4 separate regions of the Homo sapiens genome follow, and all the other regions are reported to be linked to region 4. The links are microRNA targets in miRTarBase. Many come from high-throughput screens and were not tested one by one. Region 4 holds a microRNA gene; each other region holds the end of a gene's coding sequence.
What was found. The annotated mature microRNA hsa-miR-181b-5p reads AACAUUCAUUGCUGUCGGUGGGU and lies in region 4 at 2,991-3,013, shown strand. An mRNA with a match to its seed (bases 2 to 7 or 8) in the 3' UTR can be bound and repressed. Matches are read on the target gene's strand: a 7mer-m8 pairs with bases 2 to 8, a 7mer-A1 pairs with bases 2 to 7 and ends in A, and an 8mer does both.

Region 1 (7,760 bases), not on the chromosome of region 4:
CAGACAGGGTGGAGGGCCTTCTTGACAGATGGTGGGGAGACATCTGGTGGCATCAGGACATGGGGCATGGGCCCATGCGTTGGGCCACAGAGGAGGCGGGCAGCTGCTCCCTGCTCCTCTGTAAAGATGGCCCTGAAGGGCCAGGAGGCACTGAAAAAGCAACCATTGCTGGCGGAGGCCGGGCACTGATGCGTCTCTCTCCTGCAGACCGGAAGCCTCCCCTCGCTGCTGCCTTAGGTGAGGCTGAGCCGCCGGGCCCTGTGGATGCCACTGACCTCCCCAAAGTCCAGATTCCCCCTCCGGCCCACCCGGCCCCTGTGCACCAGCCACCGCCGCTGCCACACCGGCCCCCGCCCCCACCCCCCTCCAGCTACATGACCGGGATGTCCACCACCAGCTCCTACATGTCTGGAGAGGGCTACCAGAGCCTGCAGTCCATGATGAAGACCGAGGGACCCTCCTACGGTGCCCTGCCCCCCGCCTACGGCCCACCTGCACACCTGCCCTACCACCCCCATGTCTACCCGCCCAACCCGCCCCCGCCACCTGTGCCTCCTCCCCCAGCCTCCTTCCCCCCACCTGCCATCCCACCCCCTACTCCTGGCTACCCCCCACCCCCACCCACCTACAACCCCAACTTCCCACCCCCACCCCCACGCCTCCCGCCTACCCACGCAGTCCCCCCTCATCCTCCTCCAGGGTTGGGCCTGCCGCCAGCCAGCTACCCACCTCCTGCCGTCCCCCCTGGAGGACAGCCTCCTGTGCCCCCGCCCATTCCCCCACCCGGCATGCCTCCAGTTGGGGGGCTGGGGCGGGCAGCCTGGATGAGATAACGTGAGCCTTTTTTCCCTCTTTGTTTTTTTAACAAGATTTTCTAATCGACTTGCAGAGTAGTTGAAGTGGGTAAGCAGCAGGGTACCTTGTATAATGCACGACAGTTGCAGTATGGGAAGAATGGACCGGGCCCCTGGGATAAAATCAGAGTGGTCCTCACACCTAGAGGACGGGGACAACCAGCTTTCAGAGTAGCCTCATCAGTGCCCTTGCAGTCTGACTGTGTACACTTGGTTCAGCTAATGTCTGAGAGTCCTGCACTGGGTTACTTTATACTAGTGAGGACGTTAACCAGCCATATTGGCTCAATAAATAGCTTCGGTAAGGAGTTAATTTCCTTCTAGAAATCAGTGCCTATTTTTCCTGGAAACTCAATTTTAAATAGTCCAATTCCATCTGAAGCCAAGCTGTTGTCATTTTCATTCGGTGACATTCTCTCCCATGACACCCAGAAGGGGCAGAAGAACCACATTTTTCATTTATAGATGTTTGCATCCTTTGTATTAAAATTATTTTGAAGGGGTTGCCTCATTGGATGGCTTTTTTTTTTTCCTCCAGGGAGAAGGGGAGAAATGTACTTGGAAATTAATGTATGTTTACATCTCTTTGCAAATTCCTGTACATAGAGATATATTTTTTAAGTGTGAATGTAACAACATACTGTGAATTCCATCTTGGTTACAAATGAGACTCCTTCAGTCAGTTATCCAAATAAAAGCAGTTCTGAAACTATCCCTTTCTTTGTTATGGGTGGAAGGTGGGGCTCCAGGCCTTCGCAGTCTGTGGCTTATAAAATGTGCAGAGGCCCTCCTTCCAGACCCTGGGGACGCGGGAGAGGCCTGGCTGCAGCTCACAGCAGCCACAGCCAACCCCACTGCCTCCCAAGGCACTCTGGGTGGATCCGCACAGCTGCCTGCCAAGCCAGCCTGCCCCCATCCTGTGCCTGCCTTGGTTTCCTTTGGAGGACCTGGTTGAGTTCCAAACCAGTTTGAAACTTTGAAGCCTTGCTGCGTAGAACGCACACAGGAACCCGGGGGCTTGGATTTGAAACCCTTTCCACTTCTGGCCTGTGATGAGACAGAGGCAGCTGGAGGAGCAGCGGCCTCACTGTCCACCTTGAGGGGCCACGGCTCTGTCTGTGGAAGGGGCCCCGACTGAGCCCCCATCTGCGGTGCTTGAGGGGCCTTGGCCCTGTCTCTGCCTGCTGACCCTGCCACCCACGACAGAAACAAGCACTGAGCACCCAGCCAGGAGGCTCACAAAGAGGCCTTTATTTATCTAGCTCAAAGTAGACACTATCACAATCTTGTTTGTTACTCCTTTTACTAAAATAGTTCAAATCAATGTTTTTACCACACTATCAAAAAGTTCTATTTCTTCTTGTCTCCCCACGTCAGAGTGGTTGAATAGAAGGTAGAAACAGGCCGGGAGTCCACGGGCTCCCAGCTCTAAACGGCGCCAGGGCAGGAAGGGGTGGCTCCAGGTCTCACTGTGGCACCTTCTACAGAAAATAGACGTAGCTGCCGGGCCCGGGGACAGAAACCAGACGTTCCAGTCCATCTCCAAAAAGCAGCACAAATACTTTGCCCCACAGTATGAAAAATATACACCTCTACCGCTCTGCAGTCATGCATTTAGTTTTAAGAAAAAAAAAAAATCAGTAGTATGTATCTTGTTTCCTCAAGTTTCAAGAAAAAAAAAATGAAAGGTCACTTTTTTCTCTTTAAACACTGATGTGTAGCTAGTAACTTGGATAAAAAGGTGCCACCCTACAAAATGTGCTCAGCATGTTCTGAGGCCAGGATGGGCTTGGCCACCTGGGCTGGGGCGAAAGGAGACCTCCATCTGTCACAGTGGAAACTGAAGCCGAGTGCCAGTGCCGCGTCCGGCTTCAAGATCAAGAGTCAGAGCCTTTGAAATGGAAAGGGGGCATCTGAAAGGGCACCCCCACTGGGGGCTTTCAGAGCTAAGGCTCCAGAAGGAAGGGGGTCGCCCTGCTAGTGACGGAGCTGGGAGTCACCCTGAGCTACAGCATGCCCAGATTTCCCCTGTGGGAAGCCCCATCTGACCTTCTACAGCCCACGGCTCTGCAACTGCCACCTGTACTCAGGTACATGGCGTCGCTGCTGCTGGCTTTTAAAATCAGCTATTAGTTTGAGATGTGACAGTCGCCGACAGGGTTCTGTCCTAGAAAGCCATCCCAGTGCCGTGTTGGCTCAGGGGTCACCAGCTTTGTGCTGCCTCCGTAACAGCAGGAGGGTTCTCAAAGCAATGTTCCACTGATCCCTGGATGCCACTGCAGCATTAAAGACAGGGTCAGTCCCCTTGAGGGGAAAGGTGGCTTCAAGGCTGTTCTCTGGGCCTGTTTGCAGGAGATCCGCAGGTACCAGGAGCCCGTACTTATTGCTTATTTCAGTGGTGGCCACGCCAACCTGACCCAAACATGATGCACACGGGCTCCCAGACTTGGCTGCCACTCAAAATGGACCCACAGCCCTTGGGCTACTCTGCGGTTCTTTGGACTGCAAGACCCAGAGGGGCCTCTGCTCAGCTGCCCACTCGGGCAAGAATCACTGGGTACCATGAGCAGCAGGTGTTCACCCAACTTCACGTGTACACCCCTAGTGACCGGGAGCGCACCACCTGACCGGGCGACACTCCTTCCCAAAGAGCCTCCTGGCAACACCCACGGCAGGAGCGCCACACCATCCCATCACCAGCACCCACTTACCCCCCTGGGGCTAAGATGGGGGGCGTGAGCCTTTCCCCTGAGAGCAAACGGGCAGCAAGAACTGCTCAGAATAGAGCCGCCAGCTAGGGAGAGGGACAGGGCGGCCATCTCCCTCCTCTTGCCTGCATCCCCAGCCCTGGGCCTGCATGAGACCTGCTGGGTAGGAAGACAGCCTCTCTGGGCTCTTCAGGTGGGGCTGAGCAGCCCCTGGAAGAGCACAGGAGTCTGACGAGGACCTGGTGAGGTCCTGGACCCAAGAGCTAGGGCTGCTTACAGTGGCATGAGCGGATGTGGGGAAGCGGCCTGTCCCCGTGCTGCAGCTGTGGGATCAAAATCCCTGTCATGTGCCACACATCACCCCCTCTAGGCCTTACTTTCCTCACACACACAGTTTTCTATTGCACTTTACAGTTTATACATGGTCATTTACACTGAAGATCTCACTTGATGCCAGAATCCTGTGAGGAGGGCCTTATGCTGCCCATTTTACTACTGAGGACACGGGCTCAGAGTGGGGAGGCAACTCTCCACCCGCAGCGACTGCAAGGCAGCAGAACTCAGCTCCACCCGGCCCGCCCTCAGCCGTCGGCTGTTGGCTCACGCCCCCTCAGTGAGGACCCCTGCCCTGTGGCGCTGGATGACCTGGAGCCATAAGCATGGCCGAAAAGGAACCTCAGAGACCTGTTTCCACCAAGAGCCCAGACAGGCTGAGTGAACTGCTAAAGGTCACACCACAAACTAAAGGCAGAACCTGGCCAGACACGCTCCTTCCCAAAAAGAACAGAACTCTCATCTGCAGCCTACACAGCTCTGTCCACAGGGACCCAAGATGCAGCCAGGCCCTGGGGGAGGTCACAGCCAACCAGAGCCCCAGCTGTGGCCCAGTGCTGCCCATCAGGAAAATCACATGTGGCTCAGCCCAGAAACTCTCCCCAGGCCCTTCCTGTTACTGGCCTGTCATGTAAACCACGAAAAGGGACGTGCCTCAGGCATGGGGCAGGAGGAGCCCAAGAAGGGCATAGCCTGGACAGGGTGGCAGGGGGACATTGCAGAGACTGGGGGGGAGGGGGATGACCTCCAAAAGCAAGGAGCAGCGGGCATCGGGTGGCTGAGCACAGATCCCCAGGTGTGAGGGCACCCTGACCTCCAAGGCTGAGGGTCACAGGAAGGGCCCAGGGCAGCCTCCAGCCAGCCACAGATGTGGTGAGTGGCCTTGTCCACATGCCGGGGACCCAGTGCTTGGGGGGCCTGGGGCCAGGCCACGGCATTTGGGCAAGAAGTGGTGCCACCTGCGTCAAGACCCAGGTAGTGGTGGTCTCTGTCCAGTGTGGGTGGCAGCCGGGGAGTAGAGGGTTTGATGAGTGGCCCCTCCATCCCAGGCAGGACAGAGGAGCCTGGACAGTTCCCAGGCTGGATCTCAGAAGCAGCCTGCAGCCTCTTGCTCATGGAGCCCAGGGCCCAGAGGGGGAATGAGGCGTCCGGGCCGCTCTGCTGCAGGAACAGTCGCAGCGTCTCGTCTTCCCAGGTTGCTGGTGTATGAGGCGGGAGATGGCGGCTTGGGCCAGTGCATCGGACCCATGGCAGCTGGGCCAGGGCGGGCAGCGTCCTATGTACAGTTCACCACAGAGGAAGAAGACAGGGGCTGGGCTGGAGGTCCTGCCCGTGTCTGGGGCCTGAAACTCCCCCTGGGGACCCCCAGCAGGGCCAGTCCACGTCCACAGAAGAGTGGCCCTACAAAGGCCCCTTGAACTGGTTCCCAGACAGGTGCTGCCGTATGGAGGGCTTGGAGCTGGCTGCATCTCCCAGCTTTCTCCAGACCACCTGTGGAGAGGAGAGAGATGTGAGTGGTGGGACTCACCCGCGTCCACCTGCCGCCTATGCACATCCGCCGCCTCATCACGGCAGAATCACCCACGTCCTCAGAGCCATGGGGCCAGGAGGGACACGGAGGCCACTGCAGGCCCAGAGACACCCACACCAGGTCTTTGCATGCCGCGCTAACTATCGGGCCTGAGCAGGTCACTGCTGGGGTGTGGCTCAGCCTTGCAGCTGTCCAGTGGGGTCCACAGGCCCCACTAGGTGATGCGGGGGAGGGGCTGCACAGTTCAGAGCCTCTCGCCCCCCCTTTAAGTCCTGGGTTCAGACCCTATGAAACTCCTTCCCCGATGGCTCCTGCAAGCACCCCCAAGGAGACCGCCGATGGTGCTCAGCTGGGTCGAGCACGGAGCTCTCCTGGGCAGCCCCAGCCTGGTGGGCTGGAGGGTTCCACCTGGACCTCCTGCTCTGAGCACCATCTGCCCAGCCAGCAGCCACAGGGGGCACCAGCAAGCTGAGAGGCCCGGGGGCCAGCACCCAGGGAACACCTGGGGTGAACAAACCAGTCCCGGGGGGGTGGGGGGCTCAAGCTCTATCCAGAACCCCAGGCACGGCACTCCTGGGGAGGGCGGATCTGCAGACACCAGGGGCCCTCTGGGAAGGGCAGGGGGCAGCGAGATGACAACGGGCCAGGGCTCCTAGCACCTCTGAGGCCTCCCCCCAGCTATCCAAGGTCACCCAGCCTTCGCTGAGCATTCGAGAAATGGAGTCCCACATGGGGAAGGGTATGGCCATGCTGGGTGGCCCTGGTCGCACTCCCAGTGCCAAGCCTCTGCCCCCCACCCCTGGAAGCCTCACGTTGCACATCTCGCGAACGATGGCCTTCTCCTTCTCACTCAGGTCCTCCTCACAGCTGTCCTGGAGCTGCCGGTCCAGATTCTCGTGTACCTCCAGGACCTGAAGGGAACGGGTCTCGGGGTCAGGGGCAGAGGCCACCGGCAGACCTCGGGCAAGTCACCTGGCCCCTGATCCTCAGCCTCCCCTGCTGCGAACCAAAGCTGAGGACCCTGAGCCGCTGGGCCCCTGGGGACAAGCGTGGAAAAAACTGAGGGGCAGGTTGTCATCTCACCCTGCTGACACTGGATGCCCTACAAGGGAAGCAGCTCATGGCTGGGCCACCCGGGAGGAAGTAGACAGGCTGGGCAAGGAAGACCCTCAGACAGGTGGACTCACTGCAACCCAGGGCCCGCTGGAGATGAGTGGGCACTCGCCACGTGGAGGGGGTGTGAGTAGGCGTGGCCGTGCATGCATGTGGGATGTCATGGGGCACGTACGTAGGAGGAAGGGGGGCATGGGAGTGGGGACTGTGCTCAGGTGTGCACAGCCTGGAGGAACCGGAGCCCATCGGACTCACCAGTCTGCACCTGCAGAGGCTGGGCCTGGCAGACCTGAGGTTAGTTCTAGCCCCACTCCTGCCCCTCTCTCTCTGGCCTTAGTTGGGTGCCTGCCCTCCCCGACCCCAGGCCTCAGTCTTGTTAGGTGCAGTAGCTCAGGGATGGCAGACAGGTGACACACTTATGACTGCCACCTCTGAGTTCAACCTCACAGTGCTCCAGGCAGCCATGGTCACCCAGCCACCCACACACAGATGAAACCTCCCACCCCTGCCACTTGGATACCCCTAGGTGCAAAGGTCCCACAGTCTCACAGTGCACCCAGCATCTGAGGACTTCTGAGGGAGCGGGTAGTGGCCCTCACCTTCATGGCATGCACGACAGCCTCGGGCTTCTGTCCTGCAGGGCTGTAGCCAGCAGAGGGGGGCGAGGGCAGCTCAGGTGCGGGGCAGGCCGGGCCCTGGGGAAGGCAATCACACATCTCAGCTCACCCTGGCTGGCTCCCACAGGAATGACCGGTGGCTCAGACAAGGCCCCCATTCTGAGGGGCCAGGGCCCAGGCAGGAGGAAAAGGGGACCGGGGTGAGGCAGAGGAGGCAGGTGTGAGGATGGAGACCCAAGGAGCCCACAGCCAGTCTGGCCAGTCCCGCCCACCAGGTCTTCTGCAGATGAAATGGTCCCTGATAGCACAGAGGCAAGAGGGGCAGTCCAGGGCCCACCCACACCTCTCAGGCTCCTCTACAACACCCCACAGATAAGACCTAGCGTCTGTTTTGCAAGGAAAGTAAGTTCAGCCTAGGGAGGGCAAGAGACCCAGATCACAGCAAGACCAGGAAGGTCTGGACTTAACCCTGGCACCTGACTCCAAACTCCCTTCCCCTGCCCACCCTGGAGCCACCGGTGGGCGAGGCCGGCTTCGCCCTGAGCACTCCCTGGGGCCTGCCTCCCAGCTGCCACCTCCCAGCCCTGCGGGATGAATTGGCTGC
Region 2 (7,760 bases), not on the chromosome of region 4:
CCACTGCACTCCAGCCTGGGCAACAGAGCAAGACTCTGCCTCCAAAAATAAAAATTAAAATGATTTCTTAAGTAAATTTCAAATATAGAATGTATATGCTAGTGATAACAAAATTAACACTGTTTATGCAAGTCTGCAATAGGTAGATGTGAAGTTGATAGGTGCAATAAGTATAGGCAAACACATAGGAACATTTGACCTGTTTTTTTGTTGATTTTAAAACATTGAATAATTGGGAAGCTTTTAAATCTCTTAATTTGAGCAACTAGATGGCTGTATTTATCTCCTTATATTAAAAAAACTATTATAATTATCTTTCCCACATATCAAACTCCACTGGTTTTTTTCCCATTTTTCTTTCATACTTCAGAAAGACGAGAATCCAGGACTTGAATCGTATCTTCCCACTTTCTGAGGACTACTCTGGATCAGGCTTCGGCTCCGGCTCCGGCTCTGGATCAGGATCTGGGAGTGGCTTCCTAACGGAAATGGAACAGGATTACCAACTAGTAGACGAAAGTGATGCTTTCCATGACAACCTTAGGTCTCTTGACAGGAATCTGCCCTCAGACAGCCAGGACTTGGGTCAACATGGATTAGAAGAGGATTTTATGTTATAAAAGAGGATTTTCCCACCTTGACACCAGGCAATGTAGTTAGCATATTTTATGTACCATGGTTATATGATTAATCTTGGGACAAAGAATTTTATAGAAATTTTTAAACATCTGAAAAAGAAGCTTAAGTTTTATCATCCTTTTTTTTCTCATGAATTCTTAAAGGATTATGCTTTAATGCTGTTATCTATTTTATTGTTCTTGAAAATACCTGCATTTTTTGGTATCATGTTCAACCAACATCATTATGAAATTAATTAGATTCCCATGGCCATAAAATGGCTTTAAAGAATATATATATATTTTTAAAGTAGCTTGAGAAGCAAATTGGCAGGTAATATTTCATACCTAAATTAAGACTCTGACTTGGATTGTGAATTATAATGATATGCCCCTTTTCTTATAAAAACAAAAAAAAAAATAATGAAACACAGTGAATTTGTAGAGTGGGGGTATTTGACATATTTTACAGGGTGGAGTGTACTATATACTATTACCTTTGAATGTGTTTGCAGAGCTAGTGGATGTGTTTGTCTACAAGTATGATTGCTGTTACATAACACCCCAAATTAACTCCCAAATTAAAACACAGTTGTGCTGTCAATACCTCATACTGCTTTACCTTTTTTTCCTGGATATCTGTGTATTTTCAAATGTTACTATATATTAAAGCAGAAATATAACCAAAGGTTAAGCTGTCTCGGATCTGTTGTTCTAAACCCAGGAAACAGTTATTTTTGGCCAGACGTTTCTCCAGAAGTCTTATCAACAAAACAACTTTAAACGTATTCTACAGTAAACACAAGTTTTGTAACCAGAATCAAATCATACTAACTAGCAAATGAAGAAAGCAATGATGCCTTAGCAAGAGGGTTATATATCTCAAAGCACTTCCTCACCTGAAAGATAGTTCCATCTCTGTTCCCCTTAGTTCTGAAAAGCCCCCTTACATCACCATCCTGGATTCTGTTCTGTACTGTCCAGATCCCAGCTCCAGAACTGAGTACTTACTCAAATTAATCTCCTCAGGAGAGAGCCACCTTGCCCAAGGTCATGCTGCTTTGCAGGGCAGCCTGCATCCAGTGACTGGCTGATGTGGGCATATCAAGGCCTGAACTCAGAATAGTCATACAGATTCAAAACTCCCCACAGGATCAGCTCCAGTTTTGCTGGGACTACTTTGTAGCTCAGTTTCTTCTTTACTCAATTTTACTTCCTTCCATTCCGCTCATAGGTTTCTATCCTGAGAGTGCTCCCTTAGAAATTTTCTGCTAGTTTCCATCTCAGAATTTGCTTCTAGGAGAACACAACTTGTGACAGGTTGTGCCAGGAGGGATAAGAAATGGATGCTAAGATGGGATTTTGGAGCTAGATTGCCTGCTGTCTGGCTGGCAATGAGGACTCCATCCTTGGCCATAGATGAGCACAGGCACAAGATAGCAGTGCAATTGTTAAAACTTTCACTGGTGATGAACCAAGATGGTATACCAGTGGAAGGGAGTGCACTAGGGTGTGATGTACTAGGCATCTGAGAAATGTTGGCAAGTAGTAATAATAAAGACAATGGTATTGGTTGGCTATTGCTGGACTTAATTAATGCTTTTGAAAAAGACAATGAAAGGCTAAGGACAATTAATTAAAAGCTAAATGTGAAAACCATTGGGCCTCCTTGGCAGCATATTAAGAAACTCTCTTCTGTAATAGAAGGAATTAAAAAGCTGAGGACCAGGCCCAGGACTTATGAGAATAGCAGATGGCTGGGTGTGGTGGCTCACGCCTGCAATCCCAACGCTTTGGGGGGCTGAGGCAGGTGGATCACCTGAGGTCAGGAGTTTGAGATCAGCCTGGCCAACATGGCGAAACACTGTCTCTACTAAAAATACAAAAATTAGCCAGGTGTGGTGACAGGCATCTATAATCCCAGCTACTCCGGAGGCTGAAGCAGGAGAATTGCTTGAACCTAGGAGGTTCAAACCTGGGAGGTTGCAGTGAGCTGAGATCATGTCACTGCAATCCAGCCTGGGTGACAGAGGGAGACTCTATCTCAAAAAAAAAAAAAAAATAGCAGAGTTCCAAGAATATTAAATTGTCAGCTTAGCCCAGTCTGTTATGCAAGCTCAGAGTCCTTACTGGGGAAAAATAGGACCCTGAGAGATGGAAACATCTGGGCTGATACATTCAAGTTTTAAATCCTCAGATTCCTTTGAACCTCTGAATCTACAGAAGAGTCCCATGCTTTAAGGACCGATGCTGGCCAGGTGTGGTGGCTCATGCTTGTAATCCCAGTACTTTGGGAGGCTGAGGCGGGCAGATCACTTGAGGTCAGGAGTTCAAGACCAGCCTGGCCAACACAGTGAAACCCTGTCTCTACTAAAAATACAAAAATTAGCTGGTTGTGGTGGCGAGCACCTGTAATCCTACTCGGCAGGCTGAGGTATGAGAATCACTTGAACCTGGGAGGTGGAGTTTGCAATGAGCCGAGATCACGCCACTGCACTCCAGCCTGGGTGACAGAGCGAGACTCTGTCTCAAAAAAAAAAAAAAAAAAAAAAAACAAAACAAAAAACAGCAATCAAAAAACAAAAAAACTAGTGCTTTCCTGTTGAAGACAATCAAGAGGCCTCTACCCTTAAAGACAACACTCACTCTCCTTCAAGATCTGTCCCCACCTCCCTTCCTAGACAGCAGATAAATATCAAAGTTAAGTCAGTATAAACCAACAGGGGAGTTTTGGGCTTGCTCAGGAGGAAAGGTAAAATACTCTGAAAGTTCTGTAGAACTTAGCTAACGTGGACCTTAAAAGCTAAGAGGGTGTCTGTAAGACTTAACTCTGGAAGTCCTTGATCCAGGGACGGAGATAGAACACAAACTTGGATAAGGGAGTGTTTAGCAATGTGAGTGTACCCTCCTGGGATACAGGTTTTAATGCCCTGGCAAGAACCCTGGGAGAAGGTGTTGAGACTCTGCTAAAATGACTCTTAGACACTTGGAGAAAGTGACAGCCCACACTTAAGTGAAGTGGAAATACTAGAATTGTCATGCCAGGCAGTGGAAAAAGGGGTCAATAGGATTAAGGAAATGCACATGATAGAATGAATGGACTATATAAGCCTTGCAAACCCACCAGATGACTGTCTTGCAGGAAGGCCAAAGCAATAAAGAATAGCCTGGTGAGAGCAATCAGCACCTCTGAGCCATCTGCAGTGGCTTTCCTCTGAAAGGCAGGGCTGATGTTGTTACATAACTGGGCTTATTAATAGCAGTGGGAATAAAGGGTACCAAAATAATAGAGACCAGGTGGTAGTGCTCAACCATCAGAAGCCAAGAGGTGCAGTTACCTTTTTTTTTTTTTTTTTGGAAATGGAGTCTCACTCTGTTGCCCAGGCTGGAGTGCAATGGCGAGATCTCAGCTCACTGCAACCTCCGCCTCCTGGGTTCAAGCAATTCTCCTGCCTCAGCCTCCTGAGTAGCTGGGACTACAGGCACACGCTGCCACACCTGGCTAATTTTTTTTTTTTTTTTTTTGTATTTTAGTAGAGATCACCGTGTTGCCCAGGCTGGTCTCGAACTCCCGAGCTCAGGCAATTTGCCTGCCTTGGACTCCCAAAGTGCTAGGATTACAGGCATGAGCCACCGCGTCCAGCCAAGAAGCCAAGAGGTGCAGTTATCTTAATGAGCAGCAAGGTCAGAGATGTATCCAGGGGAGCCTCATGGGCACTGAGATAGGAGATGGCATCTCTAGAGGCAATGTAGTTGCACAGCCAGCAAAAGTATTGCTCAATCTATTGTATTAAGCAGGGTTTGCCAGAGAGACAGAACCACTAGGACATATACTTAGATATATGAGAGGAGGTTTATTAGGGCAATTGGCTCATGTGATGGTGGAGGCCATCTGCAAGCTGGAGAACCAAGGAAGCTGGTAGCATAGCTCAGTCCAAGTCCAAAGGCCTTGGACCAGGGATCCAGGGATATGGCAGATCTTCCGCACCTGGTCTACCAACTCACACTCTAATCTCCTGACGAAATAACTTCACAGATACACCCAGAAATAATGCTTTACCTCCTATCTAGGTATCCCTTAATCCAGTGAAGTTGACATCTAAAATTAACCACCACATTATTCAACCAGAAAGATCAAGATGGTCAGGAGGCATAGGGCAATTGCCTCAATAAAAAAACACTATGGTGGCTGGGCGTGGTGGCTCATGCCTATAGTCCCAGCACTTTGGGAGGCCAAGATGGGCGGATCACGAGATCAGGAGTTGGAGACCAGCCTGACCAACATGGTGAAACCCCATGTTTACTAAAAATACAAAAATTAGCCGGGTATGGTGGTACGCGCCGGGTGTGGTGGCTCACACCTGTAATCTCAGCACTTTGGGAGACTGAGGCAGGTGGATTACAAGGTCAGGAGTTCAAGACCAGCCTGGCCAAGATGGTGAAACCCCGTCTCTACTAAAAATACACAAATTAGCTGGGCGTGGCGGCAGGGTCCTGTAATCCCAGCTACTCAGGACGCTGAGGCAAGAGAATCGCTTGAACCCGGGGGACGGAGGTTGCAGTGAGCCGAGATCGAGCCACTGCACTCCAGCCTGGGCGACAGAGTGAGACTCTGTCTCAAAAAAACAAAAACAAAAACAAAACAAAACAAAAAACAAAGAACGCAGGAATGCTGGTCCCCAATGCACCTCCATTTAATTCACCAGTCTGGGCCTCACAAAAAGCAAATGGAGAGTGCTAGTGGACTATTACAAATTCAACCGAGTACAGAGGGTCCCCAACTTACAATGATTTGACTTAATGATTCTTTGACTTTATGATAGTGTGAAAGTGACACACATTCAGTAGAAACTAAATTTCAATTTTTGAATTTTGACATTTTCCCAGGTTAGTGATATGTGATGTGATGCTCTCTGGCGGTGTTGGGCAGCACTAGCGAGCATGGTTTTTCGCTTTCAGTATTCAATACATTACATGAGACATTAAAACTCTTTATTACAAAATAGGCTTTCTATTAGATTATTTTCCCCAACTGTAAGCTAATGTAAGTGTTCTGAGCATACTTAAAGTAGGCTAGGCTAAATAAACTATGATGTTTGATACGTTAGGTGTATTTAATGTGTTTTTGACTTAAGATATTTTTGGCTGGGTGTGGTGGCTCACGCCTGTAATCTCAGCACTTTGGGAGGCCGAGGTAGGCGGATCACCTGAGGTCAGGAGTTCGAGACCAGCCTGGCCAATATGAAACCTTGTCTCTACTAAAAATAGAAAAACTAGCTGGGTGCGGTGGTGCACACCTGTAATCCCAGCTACTCCGGAGGCTGAGATAGGAGAATTGCTTGAACCTGGGAGGCGGAGGTTGCAGTGAGCGAAGACTGCGCCACTGCACTCTAGCCTGGGAGACAGAGTGAGACTCAGACTCAAAAATAAATAAATAAATAAATAAATAAATATTTTCAATTTATGATGGGTTTATTGGGATGTAACCCCACTGTAAGTTGAGGTGCATCTGTAGTAGCTCTATTGAAGCAGCATCCCCAGGTGGAACACTTTTGCTAGAGCAGAGTTACATAGCTTTAGATACCTAATAGTCATTTATTTGACAAATGCTTTCTTTTATATCCCTATCAAAAAAAGAGGATAAGGCTGGGCACAGTGGCTCATGCCTATAATCCCAGCACTTTAGGAGGCTGAGGTGGGAGAATCACTTGAACCCAGGAGTTCGAGACCAGCCTGGGAAATATAGCGAGACCTCATCTCTCCATTTTTTAAAAGAGGATCAGAGGCCAGGCGCAGTGGCTCATGCCTGTAATCCTAGCATTGGGAGGCCAAGGTGGATGGATGGCTTGAGCTCAAGAGTTCAAGACCAACCTGGGCAACATGGTGAAACTCTGTCTCTACAAAAAATACAAAAATTAGCCAGTTGTAGTGGCATGCGCCTGTAGTCCCAGCTACTCAGGCAGATGAGGTGGAAGGTTGGCTTGAGCCTGGGAGGTAGAGGTTGCAGTGACCTGAGATTGCGCCACTGCACTCCAGCCTGGGCAACAGAGCCAGACCCTGTCAAAAAAAAAAAGAAAAGAAAAGAAAAAAGAGGATCAGAAAGAGTTTACGTACTCTTGGAACAGACGGCAGTATATTTACAGTCTATTCCCAGGACTATTTTAACTCTCCCACTCTTTGTCATAGTACCATCTAAAGAGACCTGAACTGGCTGGACATCTCACAGAAAATCACAGTGGTCACTGACCAGACCCCCATGTCATTGCCACTGATGCACCAGCATTTCTTCCTGGGCTCACATCTATGACTGTATGAGGGCTTCCTAATGACCAACTGCCAGGATAGGAATAAACTCCAGCTTGGTTCACACATGGATTGGTCTGGTATATGGGAGCAAGCCAAAAGTGGATGTCAGCTACACTACAATGCCATTCAGGAGTGGACTTGAAAAGCAGCTTTGAGGGGAAATCCTCCCAGTGAGCAGGAGCATTGGGTGGTGCTCCTGGCCATCCACTCTGTGTAGAGAGAGAAGTAGCCTGAGGTTGGAAGATACTCATTTGCATGGACTGTGGTGACTGTTTTGCCCAGTTGATAAGGGGTCTAAAACAGAAAGATTGGAAGATTGGGCACGAAGCAGCTCAGGGTAAAGGCATGTGGATGGACCAATGAGAGAAGACAAAGTGTGAAGATGTACGTATCAAATGTGAATGCCCACCAGAAAACATCCATCACAGAAGAGGCACTAAACAACCAGGTAGACAAAATGACTTGGACAGATGTCAGTCAGCCTCTGTCATGGGCCACCCTAAAACTGGCACAATGAGCTTAGGAAGGAGTGGCCACAGTGGCAGTGATGGAGGCCACACATGGGCTCCCGCTGACCAAGATTGATCCAGCTACTGATGTTGCCAAATGTCCAGTATGCTAGCAACAGAGCTCATTGCTGAGCCACTGATATGGCACTATCCCTGAAGGAGACTTTGGTGGCTAGTTGACTACATTAGGTCCCTTCCATCATGGAAGGGCCAGAGATTTGTTTGAACAGTGATAGAGATGTATTTCAGGTATGTGTTTGCCTTTCCTGCTCAGGGGATGTCTAACACTAAAATCTAAGGACTTACAGAGTATGTTTGATTTATCAAC
Region 3 (7,760 bases), not on the chromosome of region 4:
CACCCATCGCCGCCCTCCGCTCCACCCAGCCTCCGCTGGTACCAGCGCTGCCAGCCCTCTGATGCCACCAGTGGCCTGCTGGTGGCCCTGCTGGGTGGGGGCCTGCCTGCTGGCTTCGTGGGCCCCCTTTCTCGTATGGCTTACCAGGCTTCCAACCTGCCCTCGCTGGAGCTGCTCATCTGGCGATGCCTCTTCCACCTCCCTATTGCCCTGCTACTTAAACTGCGTGGCGACCCCCTTCTGGGAACTCCTGACATCCGAAGCCGGGCCTTCTTCTGTGCCCTGCTCAACATCCTCAGCATTGGATGTGCCTACAGTGCGGTTCAGGTGGTGCCCGCTGGCAACGCTGCCACTGTTCGCAAAGGTTCTTCCACCGTCTGCTCCGCCGTCCTCACTCTCTGCCTTGAGAGCCAGGGTCTCAGTGGCTACGACTGGTGTGGACTGTTGGGCTGCATCCTAGGACTAATCATCATTGTGGGACCTGGACTCTGGACACTACAGGAGGGGACCACGGGTGTCTACACCGCCCTGGGCTATGTGGAGGCTTTCCTGGGAGGCCTGGCGCTGTCCCTGAGGCTTCTGGTCTATCGTTCTCTGCACTTTCCCCCCTGCCTCCCAACAGTGGCCTTCCTATCTGGCTTGGTGGGGCTGCTGGGCTCTGTGCCAGGCCTCTTTGTGCTGCAGGCCCCCGTGTTGCCCAGTGACCTCCTGAGTTGGAGTTGTGTGGGGGCAGTGGGGATCCTCGCCTTGGTCTCCTTCACATGTGTGGGCTATGCGGTCACCAAGGCCCACCCTGCCCTGGTGTGCGCTGTCCTACATTCCGAGGTGGTTGTGGCCCTTATACTGCAGTATTATATGCTCCATGAGACTGTGGCACCTTCTGACATCGTGGCGGCAGGGGTTGTGCTGGGCAGCATTGCCATCATTACAGCCCAGAACCTCAGCTGTGAGAGGACAGGGAGGGTGGAGGAGTGAGATAGAACTTGGGAGCCCGGGGGTTGGGAGGGACAGGGATAAATAAAGGCAAAGACTGAAGACAAACATGGGAGGAGAAGTGACTGGAAAAGAACTGGTGTGGGAGAGGGATACCTCTCAGAGTCAAGGGTGACTTGGGGACTTGGTGGAGAGGGACTACGTGGAAGACCTGGGGCCAGCCTGGGACCAAGGGATGTGGAGTCCAGGCTGGGTCCTAGAATCAGGGCATAACTAAGGGGTAAAGTCTGAGGAGCAGATCCAAAGGGCTGAGGCAGGGAGGCCGTGGGCCATGGGGAGGACTTCACTCAGCAGCAAAGAGAAGAGCATTGGGGCTGGAGTGTTCCGGCAAAGACAGAGCCAGCAGCTGCGCTGGGGGAGGGAAGCGTGCCTCCCCACCCCTCCCCTCACGGGGAAGGTTTCCTTTCCTCGTGCTTGTGCCCCCCGCTTGGGGTGGTGACGTGACATTGACATCAAACAAGGATTACAGTGAATGTGAAAAAAAAAAAAAAAGATACCTGAATAGACATTTCTATGACATTTTAAAAGCCATGAATTTATTTTGGCACAAATATTTTATCATATGCAGTCACTTCTTTGTAAATGATTTTTTGTAAAGTCATTGGATATAAAAGAGTGATTTTCCTCACCTGAGTACATGAAAAGAAAATGCTGAAATCAATGTATAAATCAAATCATCTGTACTAGCACTGTTAATCTAGAAGAAAGTGGTTGCATAGAGAAGAGTAAGAATGTAGACCAGCTTATTGAAGTAGGAAAAGAAAAAAAAAAGGAGCTTCAGAGGTAGGCTTTGCCTCTTAAAAAAATTAAAAACATAAGTCACTGTGTTGTGCTTGGGAGTTAGCAGCAAAAAAAAAAAAAAAAAATGAAGTCACTGTCTGTGAAAGGAAAAGAAAAAATGAAAAGAGTTTGCATCCATTGAAGTATGCAGAAAAAGAAAACAAGTTTTAAAATAAAATAAAATGAGTATAGTTGGGGGCTTAGCAATGGACATACAGAGTGGAGTAATAGACACCGGAGGCTCCAAAAGGTGGGCAGATGGGTGGGGGATGAGGGATGAAATCCTACCTATTGGGTACAATGTTCACTATTCTGATGATGAGGATGCTATGCAATATGCTTTACCACTACGCAATGTATCCATGCAACAAAACTGCACTTGTACTCCTAAATCCATAAAAATTTAAAATTGTCTTGGCTGAGACCTCTTTTAAAAAATAATAAAATAAAAAAATTAGAGAGAATAGTAAGAGCAGAGCAAGGACATTTAGTCTATAGTTTCAAATGGACTTAATCATTTGAAACAATAAAGTTTTTCATTGAATCTTCATAGAGTATTAAAAAAAAAGCTGCTCATTGGCAGAATTTCCCACTGAGTTAGTATAGATTACATGCTCTTTGATAAAAGCAGCAAATAAAGTTACTTGGTTTTTTTTCTCTTTAGTGTTTGCTTTAAGAGAAAAATCCTAAACTCCTTCAGAGGAAGGAAAAAAGAGACAGAGAGTGAGAAATCCTTAAAACTGTAGGGACTTCCAATGCCAGGAAACCATGAAATATGAGAGTATATTTAGCAATCATGGTGATTTAGCTCATGGTAATTGGCATATGTATAATTATAATTTGCATTCCAGTTATTTAAACTGAGATATTCCTGATCAGGTTTAACACACTTGGGGAAAGATCTCTTTCCCCAAGAAATAAGATGGAGAGAGTCTTTGGAGAGTGGCCTAACTGAACTGGTAAGTCAGCTTCCTCCGGATTTTGGTAATTTCCTCACTTCTTCCATAATTTCTCAGTGCCCTGGCCATTTTCTGATAAGTCATGGTCTTCCAACGGCCTTTTCTTTTCCGCCAAAGCTCGGCAAGTTTTCCTTTGTTTTTTGATACAAACGGAAAGATGCCTTTGATTTTATCTACCCACTGAATACAAGGTGCCATCTCCGGATTACACAGGGATTCGTGAAGGTATTCAAACAGTCTAAGCTTCTTCCTGCCTTTTCCCCACTTTTGCTGGAGAATAGTGGGTTGTACCAGCTGGTTTTCAGTTATGTTCTGCAGAGACTGATGAATGTTTCCTTCAAAATAGAAGTCCGCAGCACTGTTGATTACCGTTCTCCAATTACAGAGAGGTTCCTCTGTAGGCAACACTCCATAGCAGCTGGAATTTCCTTTGACGTGAGGACAATAATTGATTAAAGCCAGGTAATTTTTGTAATCTGGCGAGTACTAAAGATCTCCAGTTGAATGTTGCCTCAGTGCCTCAAAAGCATCCTCAAATGCTTGACCCAGCTTGTCTTGTTCAACACACGTCATGTTTCATTAATAAATTGACAATTTTGTTCCTTGGCAATTGTTGCAGGAAGACACTTCAACCCTTTATAGAGATATTTCATTAATATCAGAATTGTAAATTCAATGGTAGGCTGTCATGAAAATAAAAAATTATTTTCCAGCATGATGGTTCTGCCCATCAGTGTCCAATGCAGCATCCACTTGCATATGGTGGAAATAGCCTTCCCCTCCCCTGAAACACATGTCTGCCTCCCGCTTGGCTAACCTGTAACCTGCCATTGTAACAGCTGTCACGTTTGGCCAATTTTATGATTTTCATTGCCTTTTCTTGCCTTTTTGTACTAGCTACGCTCTTCGGTACAAAGTTGAATACAATTGGTAATAGCAAGTACTGTTATCTCATTCTTAATCTCGGGATAATTAAATATCACAGTGGCTATAGATTTTATACAGATAAACTTTATCACATTAAGGAAGCTTCTTTCTATTTTTAGTTTACTGAAGAGTTTTATCATGAATTGTTACTGAATTTTATCAAAAACTTTTCTTACGTCTATTGAGATAGTCATTATTTTATTCTTTATTCTGTTGATGTAGTACATTATATTGGTTGATAGTCTCATATTAACCAACTTATTGTTCTTAGAATAAACATAACTTGATTAATGTGTTATCTTTTTATATATTGGTGGATTTGGGGTGCTAGTATTTAGTAAAGGATTTTGTACCTATAGTCATAAAAGATACTGGTCTACAATTTTCCTATATGTCTTTGTTAAGTTTTGCTATCAAGCTATCCTCATAAAAAGAGCTGAAAGTGTCCTTTCTTTTATCTTCTTTGGAAGGGTTTGCATAAGACTGGTACTGTTTTGGCCAGACGCGGTGGCACACACCTGTAATCCCAACGCTTTGCGAGGCTGAGGTGAGAGGATTATTTGAGCCCAGGAGTTCAAGACCAGCCTGGTCTTTACAAAAAATAAAAAATAAAAATACTTGATGCACCTATAATATCATAGTGAATCTCCATTTCTATATAAAAAAAAAGTTTTTAAAAAGGAAAAGAAAAAAACATTAAGTTGGAGGACTAACAGTGAATATCAGCTACTCAGGAGACTGAGTGGGAGGATCGCTTGAGCCCAGGAGGTTGAAGCTGCAGTGAGCCGTGATCACGCCACTGCACTCCAGCCTGGGTGACAGAGTGAGACCCTGTCTCGAAAAACAAAAGAAAACAAAAGAATGGCATTGTTTCTTTCTTAAATGCCTGTAGAATTCACCAGTGAAACTAAATGGGCCTGAGTTTTCTTTGTGGGAAGGCTTTCCTTACCATCGTTGTTGTTATTACAAACGTAATTTCTCCAATAGGTATCATACTATTCAAATTTTCTATTTCTTCTTTTAACAGTTTAGTAAATGGTGTCTCAGACACTTAAACCTCTGTGACTCACAACCTCTGCTAACAAATTGGCAAACATCCCAAATGGAATCAACTTTACCAAAAAGTTAAGCTTCCTCCTTGGTGCTTCCCTTTTTGTTGGTCTCACTGCCTTAATGGCTCTCGGTGCCTTAAACAGATTGTTTAAGTTTTGCCCAGTTTTTCAATTTTTGTATGTCATGGTATTGTTTTGCCACAAGTTACTCTTACTAGGAACAGAAATTCTTTATTATTTACCTTTCACAAATGAGAAGACTAAGAGTCAAAGGGGTTAAATTTTTACAAAATATCCTTTTGGAGATATAAACTTTAAAACTGTATGCTTCTCAAATGGCAAAGGATTAATATGACACAGACCAAGTTCTCTGATAACAACATACTTCAGTTAAAAGTAATAATATAAATGATGAATTTTCCCATTATATGTTGGGAAACTAAGAAACATACCTCTAAGATATTTATAGATTTTCTGTAAGAGAATTGGTTGGAAAAACCTAGAAAGTTGGCAGGTATTGGCTGTTCCTTGCTGTTTTTGGGCAAACTACCTCAATAAAGAGATGATCTCAGGCTAGCATCTGCCTATTTGAAAGCATAGATGAAAAAAAAAAGAAATCTGCAAAGAAGGGCCCTCTTACAAGCAACAATATAAGAGTCTAGGCTGGAAAAGCCAACTACTTATGTAACCTAGGCAGTGGGAAACAAAGGTATTTGTCACAGCTTTTCTTAAAGGCCTCCCATGAAGACTTAGCCAGACAATGGGAGGCAGCCCAGTGGCAAAAATCAGATGAAGGAATTCAGCTTTCCTCTAGATCTTCTTGGACTATTTACAAAATATTCATGTTAAAGAATGTGGTCTCCCAGACTGGGCAACATAGTGAGACCCTGTCTCTACAAAAAAAAATTTTTTAATTACCTGGGGGTGGTGGTGTGTGCCTGTAGTCCCAGCTATTGAGGAGGCTGAAGTAGAAAGATCACTTGAGCCCAGGAGACCAAGGCTGCGGTGAGCCATGACTGCACCACTGCACTGCACTTGAGCCTAGGTTACAGAGCAAGACCCTGTCTCAAAAAAAAAAAAAAAAAAAGTCTCTCCAATCCAAACAAGATGAACTTTATCTAACTGGCCCTGAACGCCACTGGCAGATGTAACCTCATGAGATCAAAACGAGTAAGAGTGTGGCCCTGCCTGTGAAAGAGTTTCCTTTAAAGGAGCTAAATACACCCACTCAAGCCCACATATGAGGAAAGCAGGAAAGAAGAATTTGACAGAGGTCAAATCATGCCATTTATTGTGTATATTTTCAGAAGCACCACACCCTTTTGAATGTTGTCATTCTCTATCATAATAAGGATATGATGAATATAGTTTCCTGCTGTGAAACAAGCCCATGCAAGAGTTAGTTAAAATGTAGGCTGTATGTAAAGACCATTAGTGCAGAAAAGATCTGAGAAATTAAGGTTTTAGTTCTCTAGAGGTACAGCGGGTATTATGTTGGATTTGGCCCATACCGCAACAGTGCAACTCTCTGATAGTCTGTCCCTTTTCCAGCTGATGTCCCAGGCATATGTACACTTACATTTATTACACAACGGAACGTTGTAAATTGTTTTTATCAAGGACCGTAAATCTGAATGTCCCACCCTTTACCCAATGCTGAGATCAGAACTGTTGACCCTTCAATAAACGTAGGTAGAATTGGGACATACTGGAGTGACAGTACTAGATCTTAGCTATCTTAACCATGCTAAAAAGGCAATATTAGCAGAGAGGTTCTGATCTACAGCATATTACTTGTGTCATTCTTTTGTGGCCAAGCCTGACATACAGAATATGTTCTTTGATCTGCCCAGGGTACATTCTTTTGTGGTGGCACACCTCTTCCATTAATACCCCTAATCAGTCCATGTCAATTGGACAGGGATGAAGCTCATTTCTTCCCTAGACTTGTATATATGACCCAGGCCTGGCCAATTAGCATTCCACCTCTGAATATGATTGGTTCATAGATGGAAATGTGACCTGAGACATAGACATATCAGAGTCATCCCTGGGAACTTTGCCGGGTTATTGAGAATGCTCTTCTCTCTTCTATTCCATAATGAACTATAACAACTATGTCACCCTGGGGCTGCTGGGGACTCTCTTTCCTATCACAGGGAGAGAGCCTGCCAGGGAATGAGACAAACCTATAATAAATAAAAGACAAGATATGGGGAGGGGAAATGAGAGAGAGAAAAAGACACATCCATGGTGATGACATTTGAAACTCTGGATCTAACTAACAATGTCAGACCTTCCCTGGGTGGCCAAGATACATGAGCCAATGAATTATTTATTTTTTGTTTGAAGTACTTTGAGTAGATCTTATTTGTATTCATCATGTCCATCTTGCTTGGAAGACTTTCCCAAGCAAATTGCAGAGGTCATGCCCCACTGTTGAACATAAACTCTATTTCCATCACAGTGAAGTGATGGGAATGGGCATGGGACTGGGACAGAGCACTGCAGGTGAAACACACAGTTCTGAACAGACTGATTCAAATAGTGTGGGAGAGAGGTCATGAAAACAGCACAGATCAGCATCCAAATACAACAGCATTAACCTTTATATGCACACACCCGTTAGTTCCTACCTTACCACAAAATCCATTTTCCAAAATATAAAGAACTTCAACCTATTATCCTGGCCTTCAGAATGGGTACAGAAAGAATGATCCAACCTATTTCTAATCATGGGTGAAAATTATTCTGGGAATTTCTGAAACATGACAAATATAAGGAGACAGGAAGCAAGAGAGAGAGTGAAACATCCAAACTCTGTCAGGACAAAGGAGAAGACTCACAACTCAGAGAACAATCAAGTCTTTCCTTTATATTGAGACTTCATTGTCACTGCTATGATCCCTAGATGACCTGACTCTTCAGGAGAACCCAACCAACCCAGGACTCTGCACAGTACAGGACCACTCCCAGCATCCCTGAGGGTCGCTGTCTAAGACACTGGTTTAATGAAACCATAATCCATGCACTTGATGAGACATTCTCG
Region 4 (7,760 bases):
AGACTTTATCCTTGCACCGAGTATATAAACCCCTTAGCCAAACTCACTTAAAAAACCCAAATGTGTGCTCAAACTTGCTTGATGATAAAAACTAAAGAACTTAAAGGAATGAGGATGATGAAGGCCATTATGCCATGATACACAATTATTTCAAATACAGTGGGCAACACCCCATGTCATTCCAGAAACCTACCTTTCTGTAGTTTTTCAAGTCTGTGAAAAGCATTCTTTTTAGAATGCTATGAATTTAAGGAATAATATTTTGTAAGCATCTAAAGGTTTGGTGAAGTCAAAATCAGTATTTTTTTTAAAGTCTAAATATTTATCCAAATAGTATAAGGCTTGACATCGCTTTATATTATTGGACCAAGAGGAAGACTTTTTAAAATAAACCCATTAAAAAGTTTTAAACATATTACACAGTTACAGTTGCCTGATTTTTTGTGTGTGTATACAATTTACTGTCATAACACTGAAAACTCAACAAAGCTGGCTAATGCAGAGTTTTGACAGAGGGTGAATTAAACTGATATAGAAGGTAAACAGTTTACATTCAAACCTAAATCTCAGTGGTTGATATTTTTTCTTTTAACGTGTACCATTTGGCTGCTTTAAAAATGAATTTGAGACCAGTCAGCCTTTAGTATTTAAACCTAAAGCAAATAGTAATAACTATCCCCATTTAGAGATTAACTTCAATTCAGCAGGCAGTTCTGTAAGCCCTTTTCCTATTAAGTATTCCTAGATCTGTCCCATTGTAAATCACATATTCTGAAGATTCATATTATTAATTCATTTTTCAAATTTTTCATCACAGACATTCAACAGAATCAAAAATAACCACTATGTCCTATAATGTACTGGTATCGTTTCAGCCAGAACAAATGACATCTGACATTTTAGTTACACTCTGTGTTCTCAACTAAGAAGAAATGCAAGCTTTACATTAGGTGGTGGGTTTTTGGTTTATTTTTTGCTTTTTCAATATGGAAAATAGCTTGTGGACTATCACTAACACCTCTGTGGTAACTTAGTAATGCAGGATCTCAGCAAAGGAGATCATCAATCATGGAGGTCGAGGTTTTTCATCTTCCCCTATGACCTCACCTATAGACCTACCTGCTATTATTATAGGCAAACAAGTAGAAGAAATTTACATGTTTGACTTTGGCTCTGCAGTGATGGGTCTACTCCTAGATATCAACAGTAAGTTCTGTAGTAGACAACAGAAGCAGTATGATGAGTGAGCACTGGAAACATGAAGTCCAGTATTCAAATTCTGGCTTATAACCTTGGCTCCTGGCAATGTAACTTTAGGCAAATCACTTCAAGTTTTTTCATCAGGAAAATGTGGGTTGTTGAGAATTTAATGAGATAAAATATACAAATCCTAGTATATAGCAGATCCCCAATATATGTTAATCTCTTACCCTTGTTAACAATTAAAATACTACTGCAAAATCAGGTATTTTACATTTTTAGAATCACAAAATAATACCATTCAAAGACATTTTCTCAGACATTCATTTGAGTCTGCTTGTACAAATTACTGCACAGTCTATCCCACAGTTCATTAGTTCTCTGCTGCACACAAATTGATTTTATAATTTAAATACTCTCGACTTGAAACCCAGAGAGGAATGTAAGAGCATCCATCAGCGGTGGTCTCACTGCTCACTGGTTCTTGGGATGTGGATGGGAGAATGAAGAAGGGCTATCAGGCCAGCCTTCAGAGGACTCCAAGGAACATTCAACGCTGTCGGTGAGTTTGGGATTTGAAAAAACCACTGACCGTTGACTGTACCTTGGGGTCCTTACAGACGACACTACATTTCCTGAAGCAAAAGAGCAAGCTGTACCTTCACATGTCACATGAGTTCACCAGAAATGGTCCTGCAATCCCCCAAATGTGGTCCAGTGAATTTTATTCCTACTGCTCACTGTTCCTTGCTTTCTGTTGTGTGTTTTATTATTATTTGTTTGTTTTTACAAAAAAAGTGTTTCATTTCAACAAGGTAAGGAGCAGTCCATGATGATATCTAATGTACCTACATGTCTCCTAGATATGCACCATTCTGGTGAGAAACAGGACGTAGCAAGTAAAAATTTATTAAAAATACGTATTTTGTTTTGGAATAAAATCCAGTTAAATAATTACTCCCATTTCTCCCACATCCTCTCAAAATTTTTAATTAGGGGCAAGGGGAGGATTTAATAAGCAAAAATAGCACAAAATTATCCAATTGTGACAGTTCTTATCACATTTCACTTTGAATTATAGTTAATATGGTTAATTTTTGATATCCCAGTTAGAGCATGAGCTATTGCCTTACTAGTGCCCACATATCCCCACATATGCTTATTTAAATGTTTGCTAAATTCAAGCAAAAACTTAGCCCTGGAGTCAGTCAGATCTGGGATGAATCTTGGCTCAAGCCCTTAACTAGTTATTTGACCCCCTAAGCAAGTGTCTCAGTTTTCTCACATATAAAACAGAGGCTAAGAGTACCTATCATGGAGTTTTGAGACTCAATGAGATAATATATAAGGTGCTTTGTACCATTACTAGCCCACAGCAAATGCTCAATATATGTAAGCTGTTATTATTAAACTCCAACATAATCTGCTAATTTACCTCAAAAAAGCACTCATACTTCTCAGTTCAAAACAAAGAGGAAAAGCAGGTCCCTCAGCTGTGGTTTACAGGTACTAATATGCAAGCACTGCCTGTGTGGCGCAGTGCTACCTGTGAGGTTCTCCAAGCACTCCTTCCTTCTCTGAACCACAGCTTCCTCATCTGCAATAACCTCCCAGCTCCAATGTCAATGTTATGGACACCTGTGTGGGCCCTCAATCATGCAGATGGCTGGTTACTAAGGGAGAAGCCAGACACACAGACTTCAAAGAACTGAGATGGAAAAGAAGAGCCAGGAGTCAGCCAGGGAGGGCAAAGGCAACCCCACCAACTGAAAACACTGATGGCTGCACTCAACATTCATTGCTGTCGGTGGGTTTGAGTCTGAATCAACTCACTGATCAATGAATGCAAACTGCGGACCAAACAACCCAAAGGAAGCAAAAGCATGTGCAGAGAGTCGCCTGAGTGCAGCAGCTACTGCTGTGAGTGGGAGCTGCTACTATTTCCAAAACACTAGCTAAAGCTTTTCTTGTTCTCCTTGGTTCTAACATGGAGTAAGTTCTCTAAATTCCTAGTACTTTTCTCCTTTTTCAATAGTCTAGATTTAAGGAAATGATATTTTATAGGAAGAATTAAATACATATCTGGATATCACATCACATTTTAAAAATCAGTACATTCAGAATTTCTAAACAGAATCATATGCTTATTATTTAGAAATTCAAATACAAAAATATACAAAGTAAAAATTGAAAATCCCTTCAATCATCATCTGCAATCCATTTCCTCGGAGGAAAACATGTATAATTATAATAAACTTATTAAGATAATAAATATCATAACTAGAATTTATTTTATATCCTTGAAGACCTTTATCCATACATACACAGATAAATAGCTGTAATTTTGCATGTTTTGGGGGGAGAGTGGCTTAGACAAAAATAAGCTCATTTTTACCTATTGTTCTATAATCTATTTTGTTATTCAGCTATATATCATAGACTTCCACAACAGTCTTTTATGTACTCGTCATTCTTTTAAATGGCTATATAGTATGACTTAATATGAATGTTCTGGTTATTATTCAGATGTACATCAATATTCTCTTTTGACAAAAACTATGAGGCTCATTCATTCTAACCTTTGCAAACCATGTCCCTCAAACAGGAAAAACACCTAAGTGAGATAGAAGATGTACATTTTTCTTAACAAAAAATTTAAATGTAGTATCAACTCTCTAAATCCTGTAACATGAGATAAGCCACTAAATCCCATGTTAAAGAAAGAAAAACAAGGCCCTTGGTCATGAATAATTTATCATACACTTAAGTCTAAGAAGAAGCAGATTCTCATAGCAAAAGTCAAATAAGACAGTAAGAGAAGAGTCTTGTCAAATTAGCCTTGACAATTAAGCAAGCCTTAATTTGACAAGGCTTTCCTGTCAAATTAGGAAGGAGAAGTGATGGGGTAATGAGACAAGAACCAGAAAGAGAAATCAAAGCCAAAAGAAAAATCTAAAGAAAACTATGAGAGTTCAGAGAAAATATCAGGTTCAAGCCAGTGTTTCCCAAACTTCTTGTACACCAGAATCATCTAGAGTTGCTTTTAAAATGGCAAATTCCTGAGCCCTACTCTAGACGAGGTGATTTTGGGTCACTGGAAGCTGGAAGCAAAGTAAATAAAGTTCACTAGCTTAACATCGGCTTCCTGCCCCCATCCCACCACCACATTTCATGTCATCCACTTTTCAACTATTGCCCAACCTTTTGTGTCACCACCTGAAATCGCCACTATTCTGCTGAGTGCAGACAGGTAGAGTCACATTTGTGCTGCTTTTAAGTATCTCCAGACTACATAAAATTTTGCACCATGTTTGGTGGCCAAATATACATCAAATTGTGTCTGATGTTTTATGGAAATGAATGGATTTGGATTTACGCTATCTAAAAAACTAAAACCTACCCAAAGAAATTACCAAAAGGTTTTTTTGTGTGTGTTTTTCTTTCGTTTGTTTGTTTTTTTGAGACAGTCTTGCTCTGTTTCCCAGGCTGGAGTACAGTGATGCGATCTCGGCTCACTGCAACCTCTGCTTCCTGGGTTCAAGTGATTCTCGTGCCTCAGCCTCTCAAGTAGCTGGCCCGCCACCACACCCAGTCAATTTTTGTGTTTTTAGAAGAAATGTGTTTTTAGTAGAGCCATGTTGGCCAGGCTGGTCTCAGACTCCTGACCTCAAGTGATCCGCCCGCCTCGGCCGCCCAAATTGCTGGGATTATAGGCATGAGTCACCGCGCCCGGCCCGAGGGGGTCTTTATAGAAGAGTTTTTTGTGAGACTGGTAGACACACAGAAGGTACTCCACGCAGTCTTGTTTTTCAAGATGCTGTGCATTCTAGGCATTTATTTTTAACCAATTATTTCCAAAATTTCTGAAAACATTAGAAAAGAATGTCTGACACGTACTTTGAAAAATGTACACTTGAACAAGCATGCTATTTATTTACAGACTATTACATAGTCTTTAAATATGCCAATGAAACAATTATATATTTCATTAAACCAAATCCAAGTTTTCTCTTGGATAAAACTAAGTACTACAAGAAGGGAGACAATTATGTAAGTTAAAGGGTGTTTTCTGCAGATAGGCCTCAAAATAAATACCTGTAACAGAAAAATTACATGGCATGTATAGGGGACAGGAAGAGAATAGTCCAGAGACTGTATTAGGGAGTCATAAGGAATGGCACTGAAAAGGTAAAAGGACATATTACAGAAGGACTTGTGAGCAAGGCGCAAAGTCAATTAGTCCAACAGAGAGCCGTTTTAAATGCTAAACTCAGCAAGGAGACAATGAAAGCAAGACTGGGAAGAGTCACTAAGCAGATGAAGTGAGGGGAAGAAAAGAGAAAAAAGAGAACTTTCTTGCACAAGTTAGCAGGGGTAGAACTGAGTCAACAGGAATGGAATGAAAGGAAAGGTTATCTCAAAAAGGCATACTTTGGCTTTTGTTTTTCAAAATAAAAGCCTACTGGCTGACCCCCTTCCATCATCCTGTTCGGTGTATAGCCTCACAGATATTTCAAGATACTTAAAATGCATGTATTTATACTTAGAGAAAATAACATCACAAATTATACATAATGTTCTCTAGCTTTTTTTTTTTTTTTTTTTTGAGATGGAGTCTCGCTCTGTCACCCAGGCTGGAGTGCAGTGGTGTGATCTCGGCTCACTGCAACCTCTGCCTCCTGGGTTCAACTGATCCTCTCACCTCAGCCTCCAAAGTAGCTGGAACAACAGGCACTCACCACCACGCCTGGCTAATTTTTGTATTTCTAGTAGAGATGTGGTTTTGACATGTTGGCCAAGCTGTCTCGAATTCCTGACCTCAAGTGATCCGCCCACCTCAGCCTCCCAAGTAGCTGGGACCACAGGCACGTACCACCATGCCTGGATAATTTTTTGTATTTTTAGTAGAGACAGGATTTTGCCATGTGGCCCAGGCTGGTCTCAAACTCCTGACCTCAAGTGATCCACCCGCCTCAGCCTCCCAAAGTGTTGGGATTATAGGCGTGAGCCACCGCACCCGGCCTGAAATCTTTCTTCACTTAAAATATTGTGGCCATCTTTCCATATCGATATATCAGAACCACCTTCCAAAGAACTGGCTCAAACAGAAAAGAAAGCAAAGAGTCAAGAATGATGCCAAACTTTCCTGACTAGATTAGGAGCCTGGAGTGTACTAAGAAAGAAATGGGCAATTTCACAATGGAAGAAAGAGGATTCCACTTTTGGAACAGATATCAGAACAAGGAATGCACATTTATGATTCATAAGCATGGATCTGAGAAAGAATGATCTAAGTGCAGAAAGAAAAAGGTAACAAATACTTATTGGACACCTAGTGTATACCTGGACTGCAACAGGAGCCAGGAGACATGGAAGAAACAAAAGTATATAACGTAAAAGGCAGAACTAATTCTAACGAACAAATAGCTAATTGCAAGTGTGAAGAGCTCTGCAGAAGATAAAAGTAAGGTACTATGAGAGCAAATAATAGGAGGGACCAATCCAGTCTTGGTGGTAAGAAGGGTCAGGGAACTTCCTTGAGGAAGTGATGTATAAGTAAAGACTTCAAGGGTATGTGTAACTACCTTGGTGAAATAGAGTAAGCATTCCAAGCATAGAGAATGGATGGTATGTTGTGTAGGCCAAAGAAGCAGTGTTTTTACAAAACAGAAATTGTGACTAAAGCACATAAAAAGATGGTGAAAAAGTCATGAGACAAGGCCAGAAAAGAAGGTAGGATTTAAAAAAAAAAAAAACAGATTACTAATAGTTTTGGAAAGAACAATTTTGGCGTTCTAGTCATTGTGGAAATAGATTTCTGGAAAGGTAGTGATGAAGAGCTTGGGCTAAATGAGGGTAAAAATCTCAGCTGTTACTTAGCAACTATATGAACTTGAGCAAATTACTTAACCTTTAAATCTGTGTCATCTGTAAATAGGAGATACAACAATAGTATTTGCTTCACAGGGCTGCTTGAAGATTAAGAATACATGTAAAGAATTTCACACAAGATCTGACACACAAAATATTAAGATCTTAGTGTATGTGCATGTGTTGTGTGTGTGTTTTGTAAGCGCTGCCAAGCATGACTGGCTGATAGGAGACAAAAAGCAGACAGGAAGTTCAAACAGACTAGAAGCAAAGACGTTAACAACTGTGATCTCAAAGTTGTAGAATTATAGGTAATTTTTATGTTTATTATTTATACTCTTATAGATCTTCCAAGTATTTACCAATAAGCATAAACTATTTCAACAATTAAGAAAAAGTTAATTTTAAATCATGTCTTTCTACTCTGGTTTCTCTTCAGATCATATAAATCTTTCGCCTTTTAAATCATGTATTAAAAAAAAAGAAAAAGGAAAAACAAAGATTTCTTTTAGATGCAGAATCTACCTACATTCGGCTGAAAATCAGATGGAAGAATCCACAGAGGAAAGGAAGGAAAGGCGAACTGTCCTGTGGAAAGCACAGCTGCAGGGATAGTAGAAAGTAACAGGCTCTCGATCCGTGGGAGGTGGTCACTTTGGAGGACAGATAAGTCATCCTCAGAGAACGAA

Region 1: miRTarBase lists CCNK as a target of hsa-miR-181b-5p. Seed matches in the 3' UTR shown: 8mer at 1,479-1,486.
Region 2: miRTarBase lists SRGN as a target of hsa-miR-181b-5p. Seed matches in the 3' UTR shown: 7mer-m8 at 1,118-1,124.
Region 3: miRTarBase lists SLC35G3 as a target of hsa-miR-181b-5p. Seed matches in the 3' UTR shown: 7mer-m8 at 1,463-1,469 and 7mer-A1 at 1,723-1,729.

What each region holds. Positions count from the first base shown.
Region 1 is chr14:99,509,950-99,517,709 of GRCh38, forward strand. It overlaps CCNK (cyclin K), which reads left to right. Exons shown (of 11, transcript NM_001099402.2): 11 at 208-2,491. The coding sequence ends at 833. It overlaps CCDC85C (coiled-coil domain containing 85C), which reads right to left. Exons shown (of 6, transcript NM_001144995.2): 4 at 7,139-7,234; 5 at 6,239-6,337; 6 at 1-5,386. The coding sequence ends at 5,297. Among named protein-coding and RNA genes, the nearest start is that of CCNK, 32 kb to the left of the region's middle. RefSeq lists enhancers at 1,355-1,856, 1,857-2,356, 2,357-3,357.
Region 2 is chr10:69,103,501-69,111,260 of GRCh38, forward strand. SRGN (serglycin) reads left to right here. Exons shown (of 3, transcript NM_002727.4): 3 at 371-1,305. The coding sequence ends at 620. Among named protein-coding and RNA genes, the nearest start is that of VPS26A, 17 kb to the right of the region's middle.
Region 3 is chr17:35,186,506-35,194,265 of GRCh38, reverse strand. It overlaps SLC35G3 (solute carrier family 35 member G3), which reads left to right. Exons shown (of 1, transcript NM_152462.2): 1 at 1-1,746. The coding sequence ends at 975. UNC45B (unc-45 myosin chaperone B) reads right to left here. Exons shown (of 20, transcript NM_001267052.2): 20 at 4,923-7,760. The coding sequence ends at 7,707. It also overlaps the pseudogene SPICP2. Among named protein-coding and RNA genes, the nearest start is that of SLC35G3, 4.0 kb to the left of the region's middle.
Region 4 is chr9:124,690,735-124,698,494 of GRCh38, forward strand. It overlaps MIR181B2 (microRNA 181b-2), which reads left to right and starts at 2,976; the gene lies at 2,976-3,064. All of the region lies in intron 2 of NR6A1 (nuclear receptor subfamily 6 group A member 1), which reads right to left. It overlaps MIR181A2HG (MIR181A2 host gene), which reads left to right. Exons shown (of 2, transcript NR_038975.1): 2 at 7,584-7,760. MIR181A2 (microRNA 181a-2) reads left to right here and starts at 1,708; the gene lies at 1,708-1,817. RefSeq lists an enhancer at 4,288-4,833.